Linked DNA regions of Homo sapiens. The protein of the gene in region 2 interacts with the protein of the main gene of each other region in a pairwise test. Each region holds a gene or a part of one and is shown on either strand. Other genes may lie near its edges. The genes, in order: HDAC7, ESM1, BANP, ANKS1A, FAM124B, KIF1B and AQP1.

Region 1 (3,341 bases), on a different chromosome or scaffold from region 2:
ACATCCAGACACTGATGGTTTTACACATGATGGATTTAATCCTGACTATAACCCACTTTACAGATGAAAGTGAGCACAGAGAGATTAAGTAACTCACACACAGTCATTCGTAAGTCATGAGATGGATTTGAACCCAGGCGGGTTAGCTCTAGAGTGCTTGCGTTTAACTGCTAAGCTATGTCCCTTCTGCACTGACAGCTGTGTAAGAGACATTTCTAAGCAGAAGTTGAGAGCGGTGGAGGACCTTTGCACACTTGAGTTCCCGCATGGTCCTGTGAGTCGAGTGTAGGGCCCAGCTCTCCCTACGAGGGATGGGGCTGGGCCTCGTGTACCTGCCCCTCTGTAACCGAGCTTGGTTTCTGATCTCCTCATAACTTCATGACTTTATGCAAGACAGAGTGGTTCCTGATATGTGTAACCCTGAACCCTTCCCTCTCCTTGCCACTAACCCCATGTCCACACAGTTACTCTCTCAGGTGGGCTGGCCTGAGATTGGGACACCTCCTCTCCTTCAGGATCTCATATTACAGCCAGCCCTGTCCAGCACAGAGAGGCCGAGGTTCAGAGCCGGGCAGTGGATTACGTGGGGCCACTCGACCGTGTGGCTTTAGGAACCCCAGGTTCCTGATCCCAGTCTAGGGTCCTGACCTCAGAATGGCCACTGACCTTGAAACCCTTCTAACCTGTCCTGGCCCCCATCTCTCTGCCTTCCCTAATCGCTGCCCGTCTCCCTACACAGGACGTGCACCATGGCAACGGCACCCAGCAAACCTTCTACCAAGACCCCAGTGTGCTCTACATCTCCCTGCATCGCCATGACGACGGCAACTTCTTCCCGGGGAGTGGGGCTGTGGATGAGGTAACCGCATGTCAGGGCCACATCTTCCAGCCTCATTGACCTCCTCCTGACACTTACTCTGCCTCTGTCATGACGAGCTGTGTGATCCTGGGCAGACTGCTGAGCCTCTCTGATCCTAAACTTCCCCACCTGGAAATGGGGAGGCTGGATGAGCTGGGCTGGCAGCTCTAACAAACTGGTGTTCCCCTTCTGGGACTCTGCTGTCCTCATGTCTCTCTTGCCTCCTGTTTTCCAGGTAGGGGCTGGCAGCGGTGAGGGCTTCAATGTCAATGTGGCCTGGGCTGGAGGTCTGGACCCCCCCATGGGGGATCCTGAGTACCTGGCTGCTTTCAGGTACGTGCTCTGGGGGCCCAGAGGGGCAAGTCCACCCTCTCCTGTCCCTTCTCCCAAGAGCACCAGGGGGGAGGTGATCAGTTGGATTGTCAGCCTGTCCCCACCAGTTCCTAGACATTGTAGGTGAACGCCAGTGAGAATAGGACAAACAGAGAGAAGAATGCAAAAGTCAAAGGGTGCTTTGCAAAGGCATACATTACCGAGAGCCAATGTCAAACTGATTGCTGGCAGGTGGGTGGTGGAGTGAGCAGAGCTGGCACATTTAGTCAGAGAAGGCTGCCACTCTATTTGGGAAAAGAGAATTCTGGAAATGGATCTTCAAACACTTTTCTGGAGTTATCTCCATGACAGCTAATTCTACGAGAGCCCTGGGCTGGAGTTCCTGGAGTCTTCTCAGAGCCCAGGGCTATGAAGAACACCCAAGCAGGCCCCAGAGTTGGATCAGGGGTAGAGGAAGGCAGCTGGGGGGGGGCCTGGAAGAGGGAGAGGATGAGAGAATGTAGCCAGGTGGCGCAGAACCTCAGAGGACCTAGTTGTCCCCTACTCAGCTCTCAAGTAGTGAGTAGCTGGGTGTGGTCAACTCAGTCCAAAGGACTGAGCACTTGTAGTCCCTGAAGCTTTGTGACCAGAGTCCATCTCCGCAAGGCTGTGAGATTACCCTTTCCCTGTGGCTCCGGCCACTGCACCCCACAGATGCTTGCATGCACACACACACATGCACACACACATGGTCACACACACTCCTCTTTCATTCCCTCTGGTGCTCCATCCTTGGCTCCTTTCTGCCTCTTGCTAGTTAAGTCCCCTAGGGGGCTGAGTCCTTAGGCTGTGTGTGCCAGGGACATGGGTGGCCAGCCAAGGTCAAGGAGGTCAGAGAAATCTGCCAGTTGTGCTGGGGCACTGGGAGCCTTGGAGTCCTAAGAACAGGGTGCCCCACCGCAAAGTTGGCAGGACCGCCCCTGGCAACCCTGCACAGTACGATGATCGCCACTTCTTGTGACCTCACAGGATAGTCGTGATGCCCATCGCCCGAGAGTTCTCTCCAGACCTAGTCCTGGTGTCTGCTGGATTTGATGCTGCTGAGGGTCACCCGGCCCCACTGGGTGGCTACCATGTTTCTGCCAAATGTAAGGGAGCCTCAGCTGAGGGGGACGTTAGGGACAGAGAGCCAGGCGGTGCGGGGAGTTGGGAGGCACTCCCAAGTCAGAAAGGGAAGGTGGCAGTGGCCAGCCCAGGGCTTTCAGCCTGAGGACTGGAGTATGGCAGCTGGTCCTGAAATTCCCCGGGATCTCCTAGCCGAGCACAGCCCAAGCCCTTTCTCAGGACCAGGCCGGTTCACCACGGAGGGCTTGACCAGGTCATACCCATGGGGACTTAAGTCCAGTAGGCAGGAAGCTCAGCCGTGGGACTCCCCACCACAGCTGGGTTGATTCCAGGTGGGCTGGCAGCTCCTCCAGAGGAAGGGGAGAGAGAAGCAGCACTCTCAGAATAGAGGGTGGCCACAGGGCCCAGAGTACAGAAAGAAGAGAGGGTGTAGCTCAGTGAAAAAGACACAGGCTAGAGTCAATGACCCAAGTTCAGGTCCTACCTTGCTGCCACTTACTAGCTGTGGGGCCTTTCCCAAGGCCCTTAACCTCCCTGAGCCTTGAGTGAAGCATACTAGTAGGTTTTGTACGACATTCAATGTGAAAGCACTTTGGAAATAGTGATTGATACATGTGAGTCATTCTTTATTAGGGAGGAAGCAAGCAGGGAAGCCACAGGGGTAGAGAACAGGGTCACCTCTCCACTCCCGCCCCTCCCATTTCTCCCCTCCCAACCTCTAGGTTTTGGATACATGACGCAGCAACTGATGAACCTGGCAGGAGGCGCAGTGGTGCTGGCCTTGGAGGGTGGCCATGACCTCACAGCCATCTGTGACGCCTCTGAGGCCTGTGTGGCTGCTCTTCTGGGTAACAGGGTGAGCCGTCTCCCTCCCCCATCCATGCTTCTGTCAGGCAGGTAAGCCCGGCTCTCAGGACTACCCAAGGAGCAGGCAGATGGGATGGGACAGGGTGGGAGTGGCCAAGCCTGAAACAAGGTAGGCGAAGCGGAAGCCTCTGTTCCAAGTTAGGTCCAGGCAGCATCTCCTGGCCTAGGTAGAGTGTGC
Region 2 (2,613 bases):
AATTTGCTAAAATGAAATTTTCTACTTCAAGGAGTAGTGAGGTGTGCTTGCTTTGGCAGTGCACATTCTGATGTGGAATGCTTTAAGAAGATTAGCGTGGCCCAGCAGACGAATGTGTGTAAGTCCATGAAACATTCCAGATCTTACTCCCCCAAGACCCTCGTACACAAAAACTTACTTGTGAATTCCCAACTTGGGAAGCTCACTGCCAAAAAAAAGAACACCAAGTGGAACACTGTGGACAGGAAGCACATTTGACAAGAGTGCTGTAGCCAGCAGGTGGAAAGTTGGAGAAGACAAGCTCGTGCTCTGGGGGTCCTAGTGCTGGTGAAGCTTGCAGCCATTTAGCCTGCTCTCAAAGGCTGGGCCCAAACAGGTTTGTGCAGAGGTGATGTGAAGCCTGTGTCAGGAGTGAAGCCCAAGCCTTCTCCTGTAAACTCCAGTGCATGAACCTGGAAGTCTCATGTAGTCTCAAAGACACATGTAGACTACAAAGAACCCTAGGCAGCCTCCCCAAGAGGTCCTTAGGGTTTTCTGCTCTCCATCCTGAACCTGACTAAGGTTTACCAAGATCACACTAAAAATCATCTTTTGCTGGTTGCACCTTTAGCTAATGAAAGGAAATACCCTAGGTCAGAAAAGAGAGAAACTGACTGCTTTTTTCAAATATTTCTGATAAGAATCTCAATGCCTAACTTTGATGTGGAAATATTTTTGTGTAACCTATAATGTAAGTATTGTTATGGGCATCACCATACTTAAAACTAATAATTCACTTAAAAGCACGATATTTCCGCTTCATTTTAATGTGTTTAGTTGACCCATACATAAGAAGGAGGTAAAATTAGAAAACAAGCACCTTTGCCAAATAGTTTATATTTTATTAACTTGAAATGCAAAAGACCAAAAGCAAAAACTAAATAAAATGGACTTGAATTGTTATTTATAGTTGTGGTGGGAAAAAGTATATCATTTGTTGATACTAGCCATCTCTGTGACTATATGTTGGGCTTATTATTTATTTATTTTTTATAATTTTAAATACAGTTTTTAATTGACAAATAATAATTGTATACATTTAGGGTACAATATGATACTTTGATATATATCTCCACTGTGGAATGATGAACTCAAACTAAGTAGCATATCCATCACCTCATATACTTATTTTTTGTGATGGGAACATTTAAAATTTATTATTTTACCAATTTTGAAATATATAAGAATTATTAACTACAATCGCCATTCTGTGCAATGGAGGCCTAAGCTTTAGTGATGTATGTTGCTTTAAATGAGCTACTTTCAGTTTAATGGAACTCTCCTGTACTGGCCAGCTATTCAACAAAATAAACAAATATGTACATAGCACCATCTCATAGGTTGTGTATTCCTCACATTCTAACACCTGTATAAGAAATACACACGGACTAACAAGCAGCACGTATTACTACAGTTTCATTCATTTCCAAAATTTCAATCACATACTATTTCTTATCCTCTCCAAAATCCATAAAAACACACACTTGGAATTATTACACTTAAATGCTTTCATTTGGTTAAAAAAAAGAAACGTTCTATATTTTCTATCTTGACTCTTAAAGCTTATCCAATAAATTCCTCACAGTACTTTTTCTATGTGAAGTTGGGAGATAAATAGTTTTGTCTAGTAAATATATAAAACAGATCACTGAAGAATTTAAAGAACTTTGTGTATCTCAGTTGGTTATTTTTTATTACAGATTTTTGGTAATCAATCATATTTATCCTCCTATAAATCATATTTAAACCAGGTAAACTTTATGAGAAATTATATGTAAACCTCAAAATTATTGATGGGCTCTTTTTAGAAAACAGCAACAGCAACCAAACTCAGCTACCACCCACCGTTCCCCTGAGTAAAGCAAAGGAAATAAAATCATTCCAATCCACATCTTATTCTACTCACAGATATTTTCTAAGTTATTCACACTGAAATGAGACTATTCTTCCAATGCTTATACCAGAATCAGTGCTTACCCGTGAGAGAAACAAATCTGTTGGAAGACTTGGTTACTGAATATTGGAAGAAGGGGAATTTCAGGCATTTTCCCGTCCCCCTGTCACAGATGCCTGACTGGCAGTTGCAGGTCTCTCTGCAATCCATCCCGAAGGTGCCGTAGGGACAGTCTGGGGACAAAGGAAAGGTTGGAGAGGACGCTGCTTGTTGTAAATACGTCTCCATCCTAACAGCCCTGGGTGCATAGCCTTGCGATTTGAACCAACCTCATGAACCTTGACTGTAAAGTAAAATCCAATTCTCCAAACCCAGGATTTGAAAGTTGAAACTTTGAGTCATAAATATGAAATCACACATTAAGAACAGATAATGGATGCCTCGGGCTTAGTGTTGTGATGTAAAGTTAAGTTGAAGACAGCTACACACAGCCAGTCTCCTTGGACCAGTCTTCATTCTGGTGATGTTCTGCTTAGATACCAATAAATTCTCACAGATGACCTCTGTAACAGCTCAGCAAAGGTGGGAAATTGAACAGACATATATGCATCAGCTCCTCAAAGAGTTTTTAAAATGTGATGCTATCTTTGAATCTACTGTATTCACAGATAATTTACTAT
Region 3 (3,500 bases), on a different chromosome or scaffold from region 2:
CCACGTAAGTCATTCTACTGCCTGGGAAGTCCATGGGACCAATTCCTGGCAATAATTCAATTAGAATTCAACCACAATCCTTCCCCCACTGAAATGAAGTACCTAACATTTTATGTATAGGATCAGTCACGTTTTGTAAGAATTATCAAATGCATACACAGCAGAAATTTAAACTCTTGATTAAGAACCTAACTAAATCCCTTAATGGACAAACAGATCCCATGCTAGGTCCATTTTAGCTCAACTTGTTTCTCTAACTCAGCTGGCAGCTTAGTCATTGAATGATGAGGCCCCACACACTTTCAAGTACAAAACAAAGCTATGAGCACACCAAGACCAAAACTACTGACAAAAGGCAAGCACAAGAATGAAGACACAGTCTACTGTTCCCTGCTTTCAACAGTCAGGAACTACCGTCCTTATTCCAATGAGACATAGTCTACTGTTCCCTGCTTTCAACAGTCAGGAGCTACAGTCCTTCTTATTCCAATGAGACACAGTCTACTGTTCCATGCTTTCAACAGTCAGGAGCTACAGTCCCTCTTATTCTAATGAGACACAGTCTACTGTTCACTGCTTTCAACAGTCAGGAGCTACTGTCCTTCTTATTCTAATGAGACATAGTCTACTGTTCCCTGCTTTCAATAGCTGAGAGTTAGCGTCCTTCTTATTCTAATGAGACATAATCTACTGTTCCCTGCTTTCAATAGCTGAGCGTTACCGTCCTTCTTATTCTAATGAGACACAGTCTACTGTTCCATGCTTTCAACAGTCAGGAGCTACCGTCCTTCTTATTCCAATGAGACACAGTCTACTGTTCCCTGCTTTCAATAGCTGAGAGTTACCATCCTTCTTATTCCAGTGGAGCGTGTGTAATGACAAACGGAATTACCTAAGTGAAAAAAACTAGAATAAAATGATATGGTATCTTTGCAGTACAATAAACTGACTCCAAATTTGATACAAAACAGCATGTCAATTCACACAAGCCATTTGGAATTCTTAAGAAATAACCGTTTTGAAATCTGTGGTTCTCTAAGACTTAAGGCACTTAAATACTTAAATAAGAAGCTAAGAACAATCTGTCTCCTGCGGCTCCTATTTCTTATCAGGGCCTAAAACAACTAAATAGAAAGACAAGCACACCCCCTTTAGCACTTCCCATATTCCTAATGCTTTCCCTCGTAGAAACTCGCTGATTCACCACCTGCCCAGGTGCTCTGGGACAGAGGGCCACAGGCAGGAAGATGCTGGCCCCATTCTCGGCACATTCGCACCCCCCATGGAAGTGCTGAAGAGAGGACGCCACTACGGGCTGAGATTAAATCTGACATAAGAGACATTAATGGATTGGCTATTTTCCCAACATTTACATACACAGCAATCATTTAAAGGTGACTTCCTCATTTTCACCAAGCCACTATGCCAAATAAGGCAGCTCAAGCAGATATTTTCATAACACCGACCCCACTGGGATATACATTCCCAAGGACAGTCAGTGAAACAGATTTATTACAAAAAATGTTTCCTCCTAATGGGATGAGAAAACAGAATGGCTCTGGATGATGACCTCTCCTTCAAAATAAAGTCAAATTTAAGATGAGAAAAAGTTCTGCAGTTCACCCCAATCCTAACAACCTGTGTTGTACAGCAAAATTATGTTTGATGAGAACAATCAGTGGTAAAGATGGCTATAAAACTCTGCTCAAAGCCTAGCTAAAGAAAAATGTCTTACACAAAACATCAAAAAAACTTAAACTCAGACACAAAGAAAATTTGTATTTTTCCTTATAGATACAGATCAATACTAAGTAAGCTCCAAATTTGATATCGTCTCATAAGTTCATTTAGATTTTTTTGTTTTTATGACCCTGGACTCCCCAGAATTACCAAGTTTTTTTGCCTTAGCTAACACAGTTTCAATCAAACAAACATCAGGCCTGAAGGGGGTGGCCAGATCTATGTGGGGATTTATACAAAATCCACATCCAAAAATAATTACAACAATTAGTCTGTCGTTACTGCAATGTGATTTTCAATTTCTATGAAAATGAAATCAGGAGCATCCCTCCTTTCCTCAAATTTCATGTGTGAAAAACTCCATTGCCCTGATCCTGCAATTAATACATACACAAAAACCTGCACCTCAACGTTCACAGCAGCATTCCTGACAACAGCCAAAAAGTGCAAACCACCCAGATGCCCATCAACTGATGATGGATCAACAGAATGAGGGCCATCCATACCTCGGCACATCACGCAGCCATGAAAAGGAACAAAGCACTGGGCAAAAGCTACAATGTGGGTGATGCCACAGGATTCCATTTAGAGTCAAGGTCCACAACAGGCACATCCACGAGGACGGAGATGAGCTGGGTGCCGGGGCTGGAGGCTGGGAGAATGGAAAGTGACTGTTGATGGGCACAGGGCTTCTTCTGGGGGTAATAAAAAATATTCTAGAATTAGTCCGAAGTGATGACTGTACAACCTTGAGAATATACTAAAAACAACTGAGACGTATGCTTTAAAACAGTCAATTTTATGGTATATAAATTAGATCTCAACTTGGAAAAAAAAAAAAGATCAACTCAACGTCTCTTTCTCTCTTCCCTCCATTCTGCCATCTGAATCCTAGCAATTTGTATTAGAGGTAAAAGCAATTTTTGTGGAAGACATTGTTTTCAATGTTTCAGATACGGTAATGAGTCTTCCTAACAGGAAAGCCTTTGTTCACTAGACAAAGCAACATCGAGTTGCTAGGAAAAATCAACAACTCAGACGCAGATGCAGAAAAACTGAGTTCTTCCTAGTAAGCAAGGAAAACACATGCTTTACAACTCCACGCACAAAGCTAAGTCTGTTTGGTTCTTTCTTTTCTCCACGCTGTAGTCACTGACAGTCATCTGGTCACTTACGGTGACAGGATGAAGGGCACACAGAGGCTCTCAGGGGAAGACGGCTCTGAAAGGCACACTGGGCAGGCCGAGGGCCAGGCGGGAGGGCACCTCAGAGCCCTGCAGGAGAGAGGCCCCCGCTAGGAGTCCAAGTAGGACAAACAGCTTCACATCCTTCCAGATCTCGGGGGAAATGGGCAATGCATCCTGTGCCATGGAACCCGTGGAAGCTGCGTCCTCTAGCCCAGCAACCTGCCTCTGAGAGCCCACGTCCAGACACTGATCCAAGAGACATGAAAACACAGCAGGCCAATGCTAGTTTCAATAACGAAAGGTTAGAGGGGGCCATCCCTGGAAAGCATCCAGACCTGATGAAATAAGCAAAACTGGCTAAAAATGACTCTGTCCATCTGCACTAACGTGGAAAGATTTCTACTGTGTAGGGGAAAGAAGTGAGTTATAAAATCATAAAATGTGCACCAAAAAACCCCAAAAGGTTTAGAGATCTCAGAATGGTGGGATCACAGTTATTTTCCCTTTAATCTTCATGTTTATACTGTATCACTATCTTTTTTTTTTTTTTTTTTTTTTTGAGACAGAGTCTCT
Region 4 (3,933 bases), on a different chromosome or scaffold from region 2:
GAGGACTCATTTTAACTTTGGTTTGGCGACAGTGGGAAGCGGGAAAATTGGACGTAAAGAGCTCAGACTATGGATCCTCCTCGCTAGGAAACCAGCACTTGTGAAGGAGCGCAGTTTTGTTTACTAAATAACTTTTTCCTTTTCGCCTGTCTAAAAATGCAATGTCAGTTAATCCCTTCGTTAACCCCTCAGAGTAAAGTTGGGGGACTGGGAGAAAACTCAGTTCCGTTGTATGGCGGTGTCGTGGAATGAGGCTCCCCGGGACTGGTAAACTTTCAGGCAAGGACTCAACCTTGTATATTTCAACTGGCCCGAAACCGCGGGCCTGTGTGTACATAGAATTGCTAGCATTTCCCCTCCATTCCGCAAGCACCTTAACAACAAAAAGTCATATAGCTCGAGCAGAATTTATCCAATTCATTTATTCATCCACAACTATTGACTGCCTACTTCGATTTAGAAACAGTGCTAGTACCAGGGAACAAAACACACATAGTTTCTACCCAATTAAATGATTTTTTTCAGTTCGCCAGTACTGAAGATTGAGGTTTGTTTTTACAAGTCTGACACTTTTCTATCAGTTTGGTTAATCTCATTAAAACTAAGAGGAAAGCCTAAAGAGAGGAAGGTGTCTCCTTTGAACGTTTCACTTTAATGAACTAGTTCACGTACTGGGAGGATGAAGTGGTGAGGATATTTCTGTTTTAAAATTTTCTTCTCTTCCCTCATTGAGATACGAGGGGGAGGGCGTTTTATTCACCTGGGTATGACTAGGTCCCCGCACCTATTACATATTTAATTTATGCGTGCTGAAAGAATGGACTTGGAAATGTAGGTGCGCGTTACATTTATCTCTTTGTTTCTACGCTGCCTGGACGAATTACCGTATTTCCTGTCCCAGGAGCTCCCAAAACCTTTGGGGAAGGAGCGCACTTCGGGAGGCGCGTACAGGTGGGCCTGTTTGTCCCTTTCCACCTGCATAATGGGGGCCCACAAGGCGCTGTCCCCATGCCCCGAGAGGCGTGTCTCGGCACAGCAAAGTCCACCTGCGCTGGTCCGCGGAGCCCCGCCCAGCTAGGTGAGCTAGGGGGCGGGGCGCGGGGGCGCGGTGACGCGTGACGCCGGATCCCGGAAGTGACGCGCTCGTGGGGAAAAGGCAGGGAGGGGGTGGTGTCCCCAGCCGGTTTGGGGGGTGCGTTGCCCGGAGACGGAAAGTTTGGGAGCCCGAGCAGGCTCGGCTGCAGCCTCGGGGAGGGGGTCCAGCGGGTGGCGGCCCTGGGGATGGGGAAGGAGCAGGAGCTGCTGGAGGCGGCCCGCACCGGGCACCTCCCGGCGGTGGAGAAGCTGCTGTCCGGGAAGCGGCTCTCCTCAGGCTTTGGGGGCGGCGGCGGCGGTGGCTCTGGGGGCGGCGGCGGCGGCAGCGGCGGCGGCGGCGGCGGCCTCGGCTCTTCCAGCCACCCCCTCTCCAGTCTGCTCAGGTGGGTACGCGCCAGGGCCGGGCCGCTGCCTGCAGACCCTTTCTCCCCCACCCGTCTCTTGGGTCCCCAGAGAGATCGGGGGTCCTGAGACTCGGGCGGGGTGGGCTTGTGGCGTGCCCGGGGCGAGGCAGGCGGCCCGCGGGCCAGGGTACCGGAGGGCGCGCAGGTCCGAGTCCACGCTGCTCCGGGCTCGCCTGGTCTCCCGTTCTGACCCGGCTGCGAAGAATGGTGGGAGTGCCCAGGTGGCAGCCTCCGCCGCATGGCACAGCCAGGGTTCACTCTCGCTCGCTACAGGGTGCCAGCTATCGTAGCTCACAAAAGCCAATTAAGAGCAAATATGTATATCTTATATATATATATATGAGATCTCCCTCACCTCCTGCAGAAACTCCTACGCCTTGTAGAATCTCGAGGCTCCTCTGGAGGAAATTCTATTGATTTTCTTCTCTGAGGAACTTGGAACCTTCCACCAGGCTACACAGGACCTCGCTTTATTTTTTTTTTTCCCTCGAGACGGAGACTTGTTCTGTCAGCCAGGCTGGAGTGCAGTGGCGCGATCTCGGCTCACTGCAACCTCCGCCTCCCGGGTTCAAGCGATTCTCCTGCCTCTGCCTCCCAAGTAGCTGGGATTACAGGCGCCCGCCACGACACCAGGCTAATTTTTGTATTTTTAGTAGAGACGGGGTTTCACCATATTGGCCAGGCTGGTCTCGAACTCTTGACCTCAGGAACCGCCCGCCTCGGCTTCCCAAAGTGCTGGGATTACAGGCGTGAGCCACCGCGCCTGGCCCCTCGCTTTTGTTTTATTAAAATTGCCTCTGGATGTATCATTTTCAAGATGTTCGTCTTTGAGCCTCTCTTGTGCTTGAAGTTCAAATTGTAGTTCCTTGTAGTGAACCTCATTGGATTAGTCTAAGTGGCATATGCAGGATTCATCCAGGGGCTTATTCATCTAGAAATAAAGGCAGAGAGACTTGTTTAGGAAACCGAAGGATGCTGTAAACTTTTCCAAGGTCTGTTGTTAAACGCTTCAATCTGGAGCTGTAAGGACCGAGGGAAAAACATCAGTTTTGTGTGGCTTCGAAGGGGGATTGGGGGTGCTTTGTTAGTGTGAGTTAAATGTGTTAGTTCAGCAGCGCTTTCATAGCCTGATTTCTTTTTCCTTCCTTGTTCTTTTGAGGTTTTTAAGAAGTGGAAGTTCATTTAGAAATGCCTTCGTTAGCTTTTGTTCCCCATTACTTTATGTAACTTCAGTTTGAGTGAGCTTGGACCATATAAGCCTAAGGCGCTAATAAATTGTTATTAATAGATATTAAGCACTGAGTACCAACCCAGGTCTTTACAGGAAGATTTTAAAAAGCAATATAAGTAGGTACTTAAGATTTGTTGAAGAAATAAAAGTATCAGTTGCAGGACAATAAATTTCTAAATAAATGGATGGTGGATGGTATTACTCGCTGTAATTGCTAGCAGCTCAGAGAACAGAGACATCATTTAGGGATGGAGTGGAAGTCAGGGCTTCCAAAAGGAGGGAGACTTAAGCTGGCCTTGAAGGATGTGAGGATTTGGGTAGGTGAGTTATGATGGGCATGTTTCAGGTGGGTACCCCATGATCAGAGGCACAGAAATGAGAATGGAGACTTATTTGGTGCTCCTTAGGCAACAGGAGAAGAACTTCCTGCCTGCACCCTTGAGAGGTTGGGCATAATAAAGGTAAATAATAATGGATGGGTATACTTCCATATATCATGTTTATATTCTCAGTCCCTAGATCAGTGCCTGACAACTTACAGGTGTTTAATAAATGTACAGTGAATGCATGAATTGGGTTTTGAATCTTACCTGGATTTGCCACTCTGCAGTTCTGATGTCTGAGAGGTGACAAGACTGTACAGGTTTGGAGATGCCTCTGTCTTTAATGAGTTGATGACATAGCATTTGGAGATTTTCCAGAGATATCTTAACCCTCAGCATATCCTGCTAAAGTGAGAAGTTTCTCATATCTCCCACCCTCAAACACAGGTCAAATTATTCTTTTTTTTTTTTGGAGACGGAGTCTCGCTCTGTCCACAGTCTGGAGTGCAGTGGCAGTATCTCAGCTCACTGCAACCTTCGCCTTCCTGGGTTCAAGCGATTCTCCTGCCTCAGCCTCCCAAGTAGCTGGGACTACAGGCAAGCGCCACCACACCCAGCTAATTTTTGTATTTTTTGTAGAGATGGAGTTTCACCATGTTAGCCAGGCTGTTCTCAATTTCTTGACCTCATGATCCGCCGGCCTCGGCCTCCCAAAGTGCTGGGATTACAGGCGTGAGCCACCTTGCCCGGCCTCAGGTCAAGTTATTCTTAGTGCGCTCACTCGGAGACTATTGAAATTCTGCTGAGGATTTAACTGCCATATAGTTAATATAGTTAAGCAAGACTAGGAAACCTGTTGAGCACAATGCTTCTACTTTGG
Region 5 (3,455 bases), on a different chromosome or scaffold from region 2:
GGGTAGAGAAAATAAGGGGAGGTTTGTAGAAAAACATAACTACACAAATTTTATATACAGGTTTGACAGTGAAGGGGAGGACAGAGAAACCTGGAGGGAAAGAGAGGGTGGAAAGAATGTGTTTTTCAAGACACGAGACTTGAACAAGTTTAATTGCTGTTGGAAAGGAATAGGCAGAGAGAGAGAAAGAGAAGGAGAGGGAGAGAGATTAAACATCCAAGATAAGAAAGTGGGAAAAATGAATAATTGATAGGTCAGGGTCACCAAGAAGGCGGGAGGTGATGGGAGTCTTGGCCCAGGGACCGGTCACTTTCACCTAGAGAGAATGGTGAAGCTGCAGGTAAGTTTCGCGGTAGCAGTGAGAGTGTTGCTAACTGGTGACAGCATCTGCTTCCTTGATAATCTGGATGGTGAGACCACCTGATGAGAGAGAGTGGGGGCGATGGTGCTGCTGAAGATTTCAGGACAGTTTTGAAGGTTTGAACAGCTGCTGGGTGAATGGAGAGAGGTGACTAAGGAAGCAGGCAGACTGGCGGGTAGCCTGGGAGAGGCCGGAAACCACGCCATCATGGGGCACCCATTTCACAGACCGATGTGTTTCTGTGGCATCCTGAACACATGTTCAGAAAATGTGGGCAGGTAGATGGATGAAAGGTGGGGAGATTTTGTGGGAGTCTGTGACAGAATGGGAATAGTGAGGGGAGTTGGAGGTATTGGTGAAGAAATGGTTGAAGTGATAGTCTTTGGACTCAAATTGACTCTGAAAGGCAGTGTGGATGGGAGGGGCTGACAGGGAGAAGCTGGGGATTGGGAGTGTTGATGTTGAAGAGCAGATGTGATGGGGAATTGAGTGCCGGAGCCCATGGCCTCAGAATGCCTGGCTTAAATAGAATCTTTCAAAGATGGGACATTTGCAGGTGGAGAAGGCCCAGTGGAGGGGCTGTGGGACTGGGTGACAGAGGGGAGTGGAGGGGTGAGCTGGGCTGGCCCAGGAGGGCGCTTCCTGGCTGCCCTGAGATGTCTCGGCACTGGTTGGGGCTTCAGGACCAATTTCATTATGATCTGACATTGATTTAGATGGCAAGGGGCGATTACTCAGGCTTCTCTCTGTGTTCACAGTTGCTAGAGAATGAAATACAAGCCCCAGAGTCAAAGTTATTGATTTCTTTCTCCAGATTGGATAATCTAATATCAACCCTGAACCATTTCTCAGTATGGAAATATCCATGCCAGTTTCCATTTCTAGAAGAAAAAGATGTCATTGGGTCAATTAAAAAGGTACATTATGATACAAGGGTACAGTGTCAAATGATTCTCCAAGAGGCAATGATGGCAGTTGGCCCTTTGAAGGACTAAGGGAGTTTGTTCTCCAGGGGAAGGGAAACCCCAGCTGACATTTCGGAGATAGTATTTTTTCCTCCTGATTTTGAAAGGATAAGCAAATAGTCTTCATTGGAAAGTGAGAATTTGGGGGTGATTTGAGGTTGGGATAGGGAGAAGGCTTTACTTTTTATTTTATACATTTGTACAATGAAATTATTTTTATGGTGATAAATTACTACTTTTATAGTAAGACTTTTTTAAAAAAACAAACAGATGAAAAGGAAAGAAAGGAAAGGAAGGGCAGGAGGAAGGAAGGAGAGAAGGAAGAAAGGAGGGGAGGGAGGGCGGAGCTGTGGAATTAGAGCAAAGGGAAATGTAGAGAGAGATAGCAAAATGAAATTAGGCAAAGAATTTTTCAGAAATATGGAGGAGGAGGTCGGGTGTATGTGATAAGAAACAGACTCACAACGACCGCAAGTTAACTGACTACTCGAAGCCTAGCTTTTCTGGGTCCATGGCAGTAGTTCCGAAACTTCGCTGCACATTAGAATTACTGGGGGAGATTTATCAGCTCTGACAGCCAGGTGTACTCTGACCTGATGAAATCAGGAGGTCATGGGCTGGGAGCAGGCATCATTGTTTTTTAATGATCCCAGGATGTTCCCTTGTGCAGCAAAGTTTGGGAACAGAAATTTCTCCTATGGGTTTGCATAAGGACAGGTCCTTCGGTGCAGTGGGCATCCCTTCAACAGTGTCGCCCCTAGAGAGAGTATCTGATGCTGGTGGAAGCTCTCTTCAACACACTCTGGGGCACTGCACTCAGCTGTGGTTCAGTGCAAGCACATCTGCGATAGGGGTTTCAGGTGTGTGTGGCTCTAATGAACTGGCTTGGCTCAGGGGTAGAATTTAGATATTCTAGAATAGTGGTTTTCAAGCTGGTTCTGTGAAGCCCTGGGGAACTAGAGAGGGGGTCCCGTAGGCAGAGGCTACCCTCTGTACGTCAACCAGGGCTGCGCTAATTAGATTGCTTCATATTTTGGGCTTCCAGGTAAGAAATTGTTTGGAAAAAAACTTCTTAAGATAGAGAGATGGCTCACTCCTGTCATCCAGCATTTTGGGAGGCCAAGGTGGATGGATCACCTTAGGTTGGGAGTTTGAGACCAGCCTGACCAATATGGAGAAACCTCATCTCTACTAAAAATACAAAATTAGCTGGGCGTGGTGGTGCATGCCTGTAACCCTAGCTACTAGGGAGGCTGAGGCAGGAGAATCACTTGAACCTGGCAGGTGGAGGTTGCAGTGAGCTGAGATTGCGCCATTGCACTCCAGATTGGGCAACAAGAGCAAAACTCCATCTCAAAAAAAAAAAAAAAAAAAAAGACAGGGAATCATTGATCTAGAATAGGGCTTGGTCAACTGTGGCCTGAGAACTAAAAATAGTTTTCTATTTTTATATGGTTGGAAAAAAATTCATGACACATAAAAAATATGAGATTCAAATTTCAGTGTTCATACATAGAGTTTTACTGAACACAGCCATTCATTTATATATTGTCTATGGCTGCTCTGCAGCAGAGTTGGATAGTTGGGATAAAGACCATATGGCCGGCAAACCCTCAGATATTTACTGTCTGGCTCCTTGCCGAAAATATTTGCCAACTTCTATTCTAAAAGAATCAGTGGAAGTCCTTGTTTTTTTGTGTGTTTGTTTTTGCAGCTTGGTAATATGCACCTCACCATTTCTATCAGAAAATTGAGATGTACTCTGCGTCATCTATACAAACAAATATGCTCTGTGTGAGTGTGTGTGTGTGTGTATGAGAGAGAGAATTTACTGATTTCTAGACCTGTTTTCTCACTGTCCTCATTTCTGCCTTCTTGCCTTGTAAGATAAATATGTATCATTATTTTTTCTCCCTTGAAATAGACCTTATTTTTTACAGCAGTGGTAGGTTCACAGCAGAATTAAGCAGAAAGAACAGAGAGTTCCCATATACAACCTTCCCCCCGAAAAGAGCCTCCTTTCCTGTCAACATCCTTTATCAGAGTGGTACATGTGTTACAACTGATCAACCTACAACGACACATCACCATCACCCAAAGCCCATAGGGTACATTAGGGTTCATTCTTG
Region 6 (3,500 bases), on a different chromosome or scaffold from region 2:
ATCTGTACTGTAGTCTGATGCAAGTTGAGTCTGGGGTGAGAGGGCCAGCCTGGGTTTCTCCAGTTGGGTCTCATAATGCATCTGCACCCTGGCGCAGCATGTTGCCATGGCACGGTTTCGCTTTTGCCGTATTACTTTGGCAGATAAGATTCTAGGCCAAATAGGTCATTTGCCTGTTTCATCGAATCTAAGGACTTGGCCTAAGTGTGGCGTATTTTGATGGTCCTCAGCACGATTATTTTCTTTTTGTGAGAAACTAACTTTTGTCATATTGTCGTTTTTAGCTCAGTGGTCTCTAAGAAAGGATACCTTCATTTCAAGGAGCCTCTTTACAGTAACTGGGCTAAACATTTTGTTGTCGTCCGTCGGCCTTATGTCTTCATCTATAACAGTGACAAAGACCCTGTGGAGCGTGGAATCATTAACCTGTCCACAGCACAGGTGGAGTACAGTGAGGACCAGCAGGCCATGGTGAAGGTCCGTCCTGCCCTGCCTTGGTTTCTTATTGCCACGTGTGCCCTTCTCTTTTGATTTCTGCACTCTCTGTTACGTGGTGTGAAATTTCCCTATTCTCTCTGGTTTTGAACTTCCTTTGTGAAGTGCTATATGCCTTGGGAATATGGCAAGGCAGTCCCCATTGCTGTCTCTGTAGTAACTTTCTTGTCTACCTGCATTTTTCTTTCAGACACCAAACACCTTTGCTGTCTGCACAAAGCACCGTGGGGTCCTTTTGCAGGCCCTCAATGACAAAGACATGAACGACTGGTTGTATGCCTTCAACCCACTTCTAGCTGGCACAATACGGTAAGAAGTTTTGTTGTTGTTGTTGTTGTTTTTGAGACGGAGTCTCACTTTTTCTCCCTGAAGTGCAGTGGCTTGGTCTTGGCTCACTGCAACCTCCGCCCCCTGGTTCAAGCGATTCTCCTGACTCAGCCTCCCCAGTAGCTGAGACTACAGGCACGTGCCACCATTGCCTGGCTAATTTTCGTATTTTTTGTAGAGACGGGGTTTTACCACAATGGCCAGGCTGGTCTCAAACTCCTGACCTCAAGTAATCCACCCACCTCAGCCTCCCAAAGTGCTGGGATTACAGGCCTGAGCCACTGCACCCAGCCTAGAAGTTGTTCTGTGTTTTCTTTCTCTCTTTGGCTTTTGGCTTCAGGAATATCAGGATAAATAGGAAAGGAAGAATTTTTCTTTTCTTTTTTCTTTTCTTGTTTTTTTTTTTTTTTTTTTTTTTTGAGATGGAGTTTTTGCTCTTGTGTGGCCCAGGCTGGAGTGCAGTGGCATGATATCGGCTCACCGCAACCTCCACCTCCCAGGTTCAAGCCATTCTCCTGCCTCAGTCTCCTGAGTAGCTAGGATTACAGGTGCCCGCCACCACACCCAGCTAATTTTTTTTTTTGTATTTTTAGTAGAGATGGGGTTTCACCATGTTGGCCAGGCTGGTCTTGAACTCCTGACCTCAGGTGATCCACCCTCCTCGGCCTCCCAAAGTGCTGGGATTACAAGCGTGAGCCACCACATCTGGCTTGAAAGGAAGTATTTTTCAAAATAAATTTAAAAGAGAGGAAGGACAGGAGTGTAAATTGGTTGTGGGGTGGTAATGAGGCCTCTGCATCTTGTAAGGCATTGTCATGTTCTGAACCACCAGGGATACTCTGGTCACACATGTGCACCAATTATTTTCCTTCTTTGTCTTTTTGTTCTCAAGAGTTCTAAAGATGGGGCTCAGGGGAGAGAGTAAAGGGAGGACAGTGAGAACCTTAATGGTCTCCCAACCTCCAGCCCTGTGATTCAGCCTCACGTTCTGAGGGCTTGTGTCACAGGGTCCCGGAGTAGACGGCTTAGAGGACTAGGCCTGCGGTGCCAAATAGGAAGATGCTCCAGGAGGGAGCCTCAGAGGGAGAGGACTGTGAGGGGACAAGACTTGTACCCAGACTTCTAATCCTACCTCCCCGTTTGTCCCCCATAGGTCAAAGCTTTCCCGCAGATGCCCGAGCCAGTCGAAATACTAAGTGACTCTGCCGAGTGCCCTCACTCGCCTTCGAGAGATAAAGAAAGCGTTACCTCTCATTTCTCTTTGTGATTCTTGACGGTGACTCTTGTATGTAATCCTGTGGCTTAACTACTTCTCCCTCCTTGTCCAGCACTTTTCTAGCTCTCCCGTTCCCCATCTCCATTGCTCTGTACTCTTTTCTTTTTTCTTGTGCTGAGAATCTCGTTAGTAGCATGTGGCCTAACAAAAGGAAAAAATGTTTTTAAACACACACACACACACACACACACACACACACATACACAGACAAAAACACAAAAACTCTGAGGGGATCTGGTGAATCTCCAAATTATTGTGGGTGTACTTTGGCTTCCTTTTGTATGATAGGTCCCCATCATGACCACCTCTGATGTCTGTGCTGCTGTCACCAGGCACCTTTGTTTTTCAAGACAACATACTTTTTTTTTCTTTTCTCTGTTTGTGATATCACTTTAATTTTTCTTGGGTGGCTTAGAGACTAAGGGAGGAGACATCTGGCCTTTTTAGAACCTGAGAGGAAAAAAAGAGTCTTTTTTTCCCCTCTGTCTCTTTTTGCCATGGCTAATCCCTGCATTTCCATTCAGGGAAAAGGTGGTAGTGAGCATAGAACTGCAACAGTTATATTCTGAGTCAAAGTTGGGGCTTTTTACGGCATAATTATGGAATTTTTATTTACTGGTAGAGAGGAGACGAGAGGCTTTTTCAGTGGGCCTGGGACAGTGGCTGCTCTTGACTTTGTGTGAAGGGAAATGCCAAGGATGCTTCTGGTGGACTTCAGGGGACCCCAGGGTTTGGCCGTGGGCCGTGATGGCAGCAGGCGGTGGGATGCTTGTAGCTCCTCACAGCAGGATTCCTGCCCACTGTTTTTTCTCTGTTGGGAGGGAAGCTCTTTTCTAGGAGTGTCTCAGTTCTGCTTTTGGCATTAGTGATGGTGGTGGTACAGTTGGAATTAGTGCCATGTCATACACAAATGTTCCACAAGGCGGGAGTGTTTCACTTTCTGGTGATAAACTTGATGGTCATTGTTATGATTAAGATAATGCCGGGCAGGCCGGGCACAGTGGCTCACGCCTGTAATCCAAGCACTTGGGGAGGCCGAGGCGGGCAGATCACGAGATCAGGAGTTCAAGACCAGCCTGGCCAATATGATGAAACCCCGTCTCTACTAAAAATACAAAATTAGTCGGGTATGGTGGCACATGCCTGTAATTCCAGCTGCTTGGGAGCCTGAGGCAGGAGAACTGCTTGAACCCAGGAGGCAGAGGTTGCAGTGAGCCAAGATCGCGCTATTGCACTCCAGCCTGGGTGACAGAGCAAGACTCTGCCTCAGAAAAAAAAAAAAATAATAATGCTGGGTAGTGACCTTGTGATTGTTACAGCTCCCTTTGATCAAAGAAATATAGCTTTCAGGCATAAACCTGGAAGTCTCCCTCTGAATCCAGCAGTTGTTTTCATTGATGCT
Region 7 (3,500 bases), on a different chromosome or scaffold from region 2:
TTGTTAGATTGTAAGTGGTTTATTACACAATAATTACATTTTAAAAATCTATAAAAGAACTGGCCAGGCGCGGTGGCTCACGCCTGTAATCCCAGCACTCTGAGAAGCCAAGGCGGGTGGATCACAAGGTCAGGAGATCGAGACCATCCTGGCTAACACGGTTAAACCCCGTCTCTACTAAAAATACAAAAACAAAATTAGCCGGGTGTGGTGGCCTGTGGTCCCAGCTACTCGGGAGGCTGAGGTGGGAGAATGGCATAAACCCGGGAGGCAGAACTTGCAGTGAGCCGAGATGGTGCCACTGCACTCCAGCCTGGGCGACAGAGTGAGACTCCGTCTCAAAAAAAAAAATAAAAATCTATAAAGGAACTGCAAAAATCCCCCACTTGTATGCACCAAACAACATAGCCTAAAAATAAATGAGGGGAAAATTGACAAAATTACAAGGAGGACTGGATCACCCTACCACCAGAGTGAAAAATGTTAACAATCTTCTATTAGAAATGTACAGAATAAATGAAGCAGCCGAAAACTACCAATAACATGATCAGGGAGGGTTTGAACCCCATAATTAACAAGCTTGACTTCAGAAAAATATGAAAACCCTGTACCCCTGAATTAGAGAATGCACACTCTTTTTCATCAACTGATGAGGTACTGACCAAGTGCCTCGGCCTCCCTGGGAACAGCTATATCATACAGGCATCCCTGCAGGACATGAGGTCCTGGAGGCTGTGCTGTGTGTTTGCACTGGTATGTCTGATGGCACTTCTGGGTGCCTCACTGTCTCCCTGTGTCACACACCCACATAGCTGCCACTACCAGCTAGAGAGGGAAGAGAAGAGAAAAAAATGAGCCCCCCATGTGAGAAAGCAGCAGGTCTCAACAAGGCCTTTATTTGCTCCCAGAAGCCATTTCATCTTCCTGACAAGAAACAATACACAAAGCAATGGCTTCCTCCCTCCCTCCCTCCTTCTTTTCCTAACTCCAGGGCAGGGAGAGGAAAAGGCTCCATTGAGGAATCCCCGCCCAACCCTCCTTGGGTCCCAGAGTCTGAGTGGGACCACCCAGTCTTGAGAATGTGCTTTGTGTACCATGTGTGTGTGTCCTCCACGTAAGAGCACATGTGTGTGCATGTTTGTGTTTGTGCCATGTGTGTACACTTTGGAGCAGCAGGAATAATCAAGGGCTAGGAGGCAGTGCCACCTTGACAAGTCTCCACGCCTCTGTGGGCTTCAGTTTCCCCATCAGTAAAATGGAGGCCTTGGCCCAGATTCGAGCCCCCGCAGTCTCCAAAAGTGCCTCCTGCCTCACATCGGGGTGGTCACTCTCCAGCCCCAGATCCAGAAACCTAAGCACAGGATCCCCCGCAGGCCATCAGAATTGCTGATCTCAGCATGACACAAAGCCTATGCTGCAGAACCTGTCACCCACCCCACTGGACCCCCGCATAGACTAGCACCCCCAAAGCAGCCTCCTCACCAGAAAGCATCTACTTGCACACCCCTAATGGCAGGGAGCTTATTGACTTAGAGACAGCCCCTTCTTCGTGTCAACAACAATATCAACAACAACCTTCTTTACACTGAGTAGAAATCTGCCTTTCAAGGGGCCCTGACAGCGAGATTGCAGGCACTGAAAGGAGCTGCTGGAAGGGCCGGGGGCATTTTCCGGCCTTTCCGGATATCTTTTAAGTTGGAGATTTCAGCCTCAGAGTCTGCCCACCCCACAGAACTGTAGCTCCTGGCTGAGTGAAGACAGCCCCTCATGATCCCCCTGGGCACCACTCCATGTGGGCAAGGAGCCCCTCTCATCCCCATGGGGAAGCCCTGACTGAGGGGATCCTGGCCACTTGCAGGGCCTCGCGGACAGCATTTTCCTGCCTTCACCTCCCGGTGTGAGGGCTCAGATCCCAGCCACTCAGGAGACTCCAGACTCATTGGTGCTTCCAGAAGGTAAGGGCCATGGCCCCTGCTGGGTGGGGGCCCTAGACTAAGTGGGGGTACCATCTGGAATTGGCTTGCAGTGAGCTAATGGCCACTTCATGCTGCTAGAAGGTTGCCTGGGGTGGAGAAGGGAAGGCAAGGTGTGACAGGAGGCTGTGGCCTGGGAGTGGTGAGCAGGGGGTGAGCCCCTCAGACAGGTATCCCAGGAGGCCGTGTCCCCTCTCAAAGCATGGCCCCTTCAGAGTTCCCAGGGCAAATCCCAGTCAGGGCCAAGCATCAGGGTGGGCAACACTGGGACCGGCTGGGCTGTTCTGAGGTCCCTAAAGGGGAAGCAGCGTCAGGATTTTCCATGGTGAGGGAAGTCTCCACCACAAAGCTCCCCATCTCTGTGCCCTCCCCCTCATCTGGGGCTGGCGGAAACAGTAATTATATGTCCCAGATGTGGCATCACCACCCAGCCCCCAGCCCCTCCCTGGGCAGGACGGGCTGGGCAGGGACATGGAAACTCTGCCTTCCTTTCCCCATCCCTCCCCTGAGCTCTGGAGGAGGCAGCAGCACCCCCGGGAGAACTGGTGGCATGAAGAGGCCTCTCACTCTATGACTGGGGAAACTGAAGCCCAGAAAAACGGGATAAAGGGGAGAACTTAGGGCTTCAGTCAGGCCCCTGATGCTGCAGGTAGAAACACTTCTTGAGCAGTCAGGCCTGGAATTAGCAGGGCTGGGAGAAGACCCCGAAGAGGGTAGCTTTGCCCTCTGCCTGAGCCCAGCGGGCTGAAATCACAGGCTCTGGGAATCCAGACCCCTTCCCCCGGATGCAGCCCCTGGCCCGAATCCTGAGCCCTCACCACCCTCCTCCCATGCACCCCCAGCCTGACCATACCCAACAACTCCCGTACCACGGCCCTCACCTCCTCCTAGCCTGTGCTTGCTCACACAGTCCCTCTGCCCCTTCCCTCTGCAGTGTCTCCACATTCAGGCTCCTACGAAACCTCCTCCCTGATGCCTTCCTGGCCCTCCCACCCCTTAAGTTCAAAAGTTCCCGGGCCCGCCCTGACACCTCTTATCGCATCTGCCTCCTGCTTCATATCACAGGCAGCTGGGCACTGGCTTATCTTGACCTAGGGCTGTGGGCTTCTCTCGGGAGGGAGCCGGGCTAACCCAGCCCTGCATTGAGCACCCAGCAGTCCCTGGTCATGCTTGCAGGGAGCCGGCTGAGCAGACCAGACAGCAGAAGAATGAAAAAAGCCAGCAAATGCCAGGAATCCTGAGTCCACCAGCATCTCCTACTTCTCAGAGCCCAGCCACACCCTGCTATGTCCCTATCTCATAGACAGGAACTAGGGCCACACAGGCCAGTCTGTTGTGTGATGCCACATGGTGTTAGTGGCTGAGCTAGGACAGGGACAGGTGAGAGTGTCCACCCCAGCCTCAGAGCCTCTCACCCTTAGCCAAAATTGGTATTTGGCTCTTAGAACTAGCCGGGACCTTGCAGGCTGGACGGAGGCCCACGGTCTCTCTAGGGCATATCCTGAGCCCTGAGTCAGTCAGGAGAAA

What was found.
Region 1: the proteins of ESM1 (region 2) and HDAC7 interact in binary tests that used the Homo sapiens proteins (3 or more experiments, as listed by UniProt).
Region 3: the proteins of ESM1 (region 2) and BANP interact in binary tests that used the Homo sapiens proteins (3 or more experiments, as listed by UniProt).
Region 4: the proteins of ESM1 (region 2) and ANKS1A interact in a two-hybrid assay, tested with the Homo sapiens proteins (one large-scale study listed by BioGRID).
Region 5: the proteins of ESM1 (region 2) and FAM124B interact in binary tests that used the Homo sapiens proteins (3 or more experiments, as listed by UniProt).
Region 6: the proteins of ESM1 (region 2) and KIF1B interact in binary tests that used the Homo sapiens proteins (3 or more experiments, as listed by UniProt).
Region 7: the proteins of ESM1 (region 2) and AQP1 interact in binary tests that used the Homo sapiens proteins (3 or more experiments, as listed by UniProt).

Annotation. Positions count from the first base shown.
Region 1 is NC_000012.12:47,785,563-47,788,903, reverse strand, and holds part of HDAC7 (histone deacetylase 7), read left to right. Parts: intron 1-739; coding exon 740-859; intron 860-1,094; coding exon 1,095-1,192; intron 1,193-2,200; coding exon 2,201-2,319; intron 2,320-3,018; coding exon 3,019-3,152; intron 3,153-3,341. UniProt on the Homo sapiens protein: Responsible for the deacetylation of lysine residues on the N-terminal part of the core histones (H2A, H2B, H3 and H4).
Region 2 is NC_000005.10:54,979,981-54,982,593, forward strand, and holds part of ESM1 (endothelial cell-specific molecule 1 isoform a precursor), read right to left. Parts: intron 2,167-2,613; coding exon 2,017-2,166; intron 1-2,016. UniProt on the Homo sapiens protein: Involved in angiogenesis; promotes angiogenic sprouting. May have potent implications in lung endothelial cell-leukocyte interactions.
Region 3 is NC_000016.10:88,006,934-88,010,433, reverse strand, and holds part of BANP (protein BANP), read right to left. Parts: intron 1-3,500. UniProt on the Homo sapiens protein: Controls V(D)J recombination during T-cell development by repressing T-cell receptor (TCR) beta enhancer function. Binds to scaffold/matrix attachment region beta (S/MARbeta), an ATC-rich DNA sequence located upstream of the TCR beta enhancer.
Region 4 is NC_000006.12:34,888,122-34,892,054, forward strand, and holds the start of ANKS1A (ankyrin repeat and SAM domain-containing protein 1A), read left to right. Parts: upstream 1-1,133; 5' UTR 1,134-1,281; coding exon 1,282-1,478; intron 1,479-3,933. UniProt on the Homo sapiens protein: Regulator of different signaling pathways. Regulates EPHA8 receptor tyrosine kinase signaling to control cell migration and neurite retraction.
Region 5 is NC_000002.12:224,381,653-224,385,107, reverse strand, and holds part of FAM124B (protein FAM124B), read left to right. Parts: intron 1-3,455.
Region 6 is NC_000001.11:10,374,570-10,378,069, forward strand, and holds part of KIF1B (kinesin-like protein KIF1B), read left to right. Parts: intron 1-284; coding exon 285-477; intron 478-685; coding exon 686-804; intron 805-1,975; coding exon 1,976-2,018; 3' UTR 2,019-3,500. UniProt on the Homo sapiens protein: Has a plus-end-directed microtubule motor activity and functions as a motor for transport of vesicles and organelles along microtubules.
Region 7 is NC_000007.14:30,914,853-30,918,352, reverse strand, and holds part of AQP1 (aquaporin-1), read right to left. Parts: intron 1-3,500. UniProt on the Homo sapiens protein: Forms a water channel that facilitates the transport of water across cell membranes, playing a crucial role in water homeostasis in various tissues.